Linked DNA regions of Homo sapiens: region 2 is linked to region 1. Evidence: fine-mapped expression QTL. A gene starts in region 1. The other region holds a variant in brackets. All regions are shown on one strand. Distances are from middle to middle.

Evidence for each region. PIP is the estimated chance that this variant, and not a neighbour inherited with it, causes the effect. A credible set is the group of variants that fine-mapping cannot tell apart.
Region 2: its variant is the best candidate, but not a certain one, in a credible set for the expression of CRY2 in whole blood (TOPMed, PIP 0.57).

The regions. Positions count from the first base shown.
Region 1 is chr11:45,846,344-45,849,129 of GRCh38, forward strand. It overlaps CRY2 (cryptochrome circadian regulator 2), which reads left to right and starts at 1,132. Exons shown (of 12, transcript NM_021117.5): 1 at 1,132-1,362. The coding sequence starts at 1,148. RefSeq lists enhancers at 583-692, 743-792, 1,153-1,392, 1,323-1,844 and a silencer at 1,793-1,902.
Region 2 is chr11:45,866,128-45,868,913 of GRCh38, forward strand. CRY2 (cryptochrome circadian regulator 2) reads left to right here. Exons shown (of 12, transcript NM_021117.5): 6 at 1,485-1,625. Among named protein-coding and RNA genes, the nearest start is that of MAPK8IP1, 18 kb to the right of the region's middle. The variant A/T (reference allele first, on the strand shown) is at 1,444.

The DNA of each region.
Region 1 (2,786 bases):
ACTCTGTCCCAGGTCCAGGAAGGGTTCCAAGCATGGGCTCAACCTAGGGTCAAGTTGAAACAGACTGTTTTCCACCTGATAACCCCAAAGCTGCAGCTTGACTAAGCCGTCTTAGCCCAAGAGGGTTCCACCTGGCGTCCCAGAAGAATGGGGACAGTGTCCTCCACATCTCTGAACCCTACCCGGAATCCAGTACAGTGCTTTGCACACACTGGATCTACTAAACAGACTAAAAGAAAATAAATTCATCTGATGGCATAATTACTATCTCAATTCAAGTCCCCCACATTCCCAGTCCTTACTCCCAAATCCTCTACTGCTGCATATTAGGGCACTCCTTCCCCGTCCTTAGACTCTGCCACTTGGAATTACCAAGGATCTTCGCACAAAGAGAAGTATAGCTTCGTGGATAAAAGCAGAAATTTCGAAATCAGAATAATCTGGGTGAAATCCTCTTAGCAGCTTTATGATATTGAATAAGTCACTCAACCTGCGGCACCCTCCGTTTTCTTCATCTGTGAAACGAAAACAACAGCAGCTTTTTCACTGGGGTTCGCTAAATGAATGTAACTGGGCTGAGTTGAGAATAGTAAATGAGACCGTCTACGTAAGGAGATGATCATGTCTCTTGCCATATAAAGTGCACTTAATAAATGGCAGCTGTAGTAGAATGATGTAGATGGTGATGGTGACGATGTTGGTGATAATAGGAAGGTCAGCTGTCAGTCTTGCAAGTCACTGGCTGTAGTCACAGCAACCCCTACCAGCCCAGGCAGCTTCTTCTAGAAGCAGGCCCTGAACAGGACGTGGGTAAGAGATCCGCTGTCCCTTGAGACTTGGCCTACTCCCGGCACTCCGCGGACAGCCCCAGCCTGCGGACAGCCCCAGCCTGCGTCACTTGTCCGCATGCCAGCTCCACCCGGGCGGACCCACACATGGTAGGAACGTGAGGGGGCGGGCCTGTTCCGGCGCCTCTGGGCCAATCGCCAGGTGGAAGGCACTCAGCCAATGGCAGAGGGGCTCTGGGGCCCTGTGGGCGGGGACTAAGGGTGGAGTTGCGGCGTCATAGGTCACTGGGCGGGCTATGGGCGGGGTCCACGTCGCCTACCGGGGCGGAGCGGGGGTGGCTGGAGCAGTCTGGACAGTCATGGCGGCGACTGTGGCGACGGCGGCAGCTGTGGCCCCGGCGCCAGCGCCCGGCACGGACAGCGCCTCTTCGGTGCACTGGTTCCGCAAAGGGCTGCGACTCCACGACAACCCGGCGTTGCTGGCGGCCGTGCGCGGGGCGCGCTGCGTGCGCTGCGTTTACATTCTCGACCCGTGGTTCGCGGCCTCCTCCTCAGTCGGGATCAACCGATGGAGGTGAGGGGACCCGGGGCTGGGTGGCGGGGACGCAGCCAGGACCCTGACCCTGGGGTGACCGGCGAACAGCACGATCCCCCCAACCCCGCCACGGCTGGAAGGCCAGAGGGGAGAAGCCGAGACCGGGGAAGTAATTCGTCATGGTCCTAACGCGCCGGTGGGCCAGGGTTCAGCCTCTGACAAAGCGCGTTCGCACTGTTACCCCTTTGAGCCTCACAACTGCCTGTGGAACGGAGATCATGATCCCCGTTGTACAGATGAGACCCTTGAGCCCTGGAGACCCAAAGTCGACCTGCCCAAGGACTTGTAGCCAGTGAGTGGCAGAACAGGGGCTCCTGGTCTAGGGCTCTTACGGTCTACTCAGGGAGGGGCGGAAGGGAGATAACGTAGTGTGAGGGCGGGACGGGTTTTTGCTCGCATTCTTCAAGAGCCCGTTGCTGGGCTCGGGGAGATCACTCCGAAGCCTCTGGCTCGTTTGAATCCGCCCTACCACCCATCCTGGCTACCCTGCACCCAGACCGTCCTGCCTCTAGGGGTGTCAAGTGACCCTGGCTTAGCATTAAATAAGGTCTTCTCCCCTATATTATAAATAAAGAAGCCAAAGGCGTCTTCAGGTGGAGTCGCTTTATGTTCAAAGCTCCAGAGAATCCAGGGGATTCTCCAAAATGTTTTAAGCCCTGCTCTGGAGCTTTGACCTCGATAGAAAAATTTAAAAGAATCCAAAGTGTCACCCCGTCATCCTCTTGTCATGATTTTAGAGGACAGTAGAGCCATTAGAGATGAGACTTTTATGAACTGTTGTGGTAAGGTTAGGGAGCAGGAAAGCCATGATATCAAGGGCCCCTCTGATGACCCCCCAGGAGATGGAGTCGACATGATCATGGAAAAAGATGAACAGGTCGTTAGTGTATTTTCACTGTAAACAGTATTCAAACTAAAGAGTTTTGAGACATAATGTACCCATCGCTCTTCAGAACACCTAGTGGCAGTCGCTCGGTTTGTTTGCATTGTTCTGGGGAATGTTTGCTTGTGGCCTTGTTGCATCGATGGACAGGGTTATTTCCAGGATACCGTGGCTCTCGGCACACCATTCTTTTCTCTCCAAGGTGTGTGCCCTGCTAAGAGAGTGAGTGCTGCTAGCAGTGGGCCTGTTCAGTGTCCCCTCCTGCCCAGAAGGAACAACTAAGGAGTCCTGTGGAGAGCCTGCCCACAGTTTTCAGGCTGCCTTATTGCTCTGTCTCTGCTCCAGTTTTCTACAGATAGGAGGTTGGGTTTGACAAGCATCATCAAATGACCATCCCTAGTGTGCACATTAAGCCAAGCCTCAGACTTTGCCCTGCACCAGTCGGAGCCAGGCAAATGGAATCCGACTACCTTCTTGTTACATTGTCACAGAGTTTCTTCTTTTATTGGGTTTTGGGGGA
Region 2 (2,786 bases), 20 kb after region 1:
TGTATTATCTGAGGTAGGGAGGCCAATGGAAGGGTGGGTTAAAAGAAAAGGGCACATCTCCCTTGAGCTGCCTGAGAGGCAGCCAAGTAGAGGTTTCTAGCAGGCAGCTGGGTGGAGCAATCTGGGCTAGAGCTATGGATGTGGTGGTTGTCTGCAAAGGGGTGGAACTGGGAGCCATGGGCCTGGATGAGCTTGCTGAGGCACACAGTTGAGTAGAGAACCTAGAGCTGAGCCCTGGGTACCCACATTTAAGGGAGAGGCAGAGGAGGTGGAGCTGATGAAAGACCAAGAGCGCCAGGCAGCTGGGAGATACCAGGAGATGTGGAGTCACAGAGGCCAAGGAATCAAGAGGATAAGACAGCACAGTTGGCAGGTATAGCGCTGCTGAGAGATCCCAAAATACAAGGTCAGAAAGTGCCTGCAGGACTCAGTGGCACAGAAGTCACAGGAGACTCTTGTGGGAACCAGCCTTGTGGTCACCTGAGGTTTGGAGTTAGAGACCAGCCTGGCCAACATGGCGAAACCCCATGTCTACTAAAAATACAAAAATTAGCCAGGTGTGGTGGCAGGTGCCTATAATCCCAGCTACTCAGGAGGCTGAAGAGAGTCAAGGTTGTGAAACAGTATCATGGAGAGGAGGAGAGGATGTTGGGAGTTAAGAAAGTGGAAATAGGCCGGGCACAGTGGCTCACACCTATAATCCCAGCACTTTGGGAGGCCAAGGTGGGCGATCAGGAGAATCCCTTGAACCCGGGAGGTGGAGGTTGCGGTGAGCCGAGATCACGCCACTGCACTCCAGCCTGGGTGACAAGAGCAAAACTCTGTCTCAAAAAAGAAAAAAAAATAAATAAAAAAAGTCGTGAGAGACTGCATGGAACAGCAAGTCAGGAAAGTAAAGTCCTATGCCAGCAACCAGTGATGATAAAAACATGACCAGTAATGTTATATGACACATGGCCCCAGAAATGAATGATTCCATTGGTCCCCAGGAATGGATTGGAAGTTTCCTCCTTCCCCAGCTGCTGTTGAACAATAATGCGAAGTCCCTGGTGTCTGTGATACAACCTCAGGGCCGCTAGTGACTAGAGAAGGGACTGAGATATTCTTTTCTGTAACATAGAAGCCTTGTTTCCTGCTGTATAATTAGAGAGTTCATTCAGTGCTTTCAGAATTCTTTCATATCTCATTTTAATCCACAGAAGATTGGAAATTTTGTTCTTATTTAATAGATACGTAGCTGAGGGAAGTAACAACGTGTTCACAGTCACCCCACAAATTAAAGAGCAAGTCAGAGAATGACATAGACTCGTTGTTTGGTCTGATGGTGGTTCCGTCTCAAAATCGGCTGGACAAGCACAGTGTTCCATGGCTCCATGGCTGGCTGTTCTGTGACCGTAGGCAGATTCCTTAACCACCCAATGCCTCCATTTTTTCCTCTGTTAC[A/T]TCCAAGCCTTTCCTTTTGCCACCTTCTCTTTCTGCTGTAGGCCTGGGTTGCCAACTATGAGAGACCCCGAATGAACGCCAACTCCCTCCTGGCCAGCCCCACAGGCCTCAGCCCCTACCTGCGCTTTGGTTGTCTCTCCTGCCGCCTCTTCTACTACCGCCTGTGGGACCTGTATAAAAAGGTAAGGGGGACATACCTGCCCACATTGCACCTAAGGCCTGCAGCCAGGCCTTTTGGGCTTGTCAGTCACCCTAAAAAAGGCACTGGTGGGTGGGGGTTGGGCTATGGCCCCTGGAAGGGCCTAAGTGTGTGCAGATAGTCCGGAGGAGGAGAGAAGACTCAATATCCAAGAGGGCAGAGCCAAGCACAGAGTGAACTGCCCACCAGAATGAAGCCCAGACCATCATGTAGAGCAGAAGGACAGGCAGAAAAGCAGGCCTCAGGTGTGACCCTAGAGGTGGCATATCCTCTGGCAGCTGGTGGACAGGGGCGAGGTCCCCAGGGTGAGAGGCATGGAGAGGGTGAGGCTGGAGCCAGTCTGAAGTGGAAGAGCATAGCTGCCCGCTCTGGAGCTGTGTCCACAGCATTCAAAAGGGGAGTCCAGGAACAGCAGTTGCCCATCAGTGATGGAGGGAGTGGTGTGGAGGGGCTGCACACAGGGCTGTGCTATACAGACAAGAAGCAAATAAGCCTGTGTTAACTGTCCCCAGAAGGAGAGAGGGCAACACAGTCAGCATTCAGAGGGATCACCTCATCTTGTGCCTATGTTTTTTGTTTCTGTTGTTTATTTAAGAGACAAAGTCTAGCTGTGTTACCCAGGCTAGAGTGTAGTGTGGCCTGATCACAGCTCACTGAAACCTCAGACTCCTGGGCTCAAGCAATCCCTCTGCCTCAGCCTCTCAAGTAGAGCTAATTTTTTACATTCTTTGTAGAGATAGGGTCTTGCTATGTTGCCCAGGCTGGTCTCGAACTCCTGGGCACAAGCAATTGTCCTGCCTTGGCCTCCCACAGTGCTGGGATTACAGCCGTGAGCCACCATGCCTAGCCGTTGTGTCTACATTTGTTTTTTTGTTTGTTTTTGAGACAGGATCTCATTCTGTCACCCAGGCTGGAGTACAGTGGTATGATCACAGCTCACTGCAGCCACAACCTTTCAGGCTCAGGTGATCCTCCTATCTCAGCCTCCCCAGCAGTTGGGACTATAGGTGCATGCCACCACACCTGGCTAATTTTTTGTATTTTTTTGTAGAAACTGGGTTTTTCCATGTTGCCCAGGCTGATCTCAAACTCCTGGGCTCAGGCCATCCACCCACCTCAGCCTCTCAAAGTGACAGATGCTAGC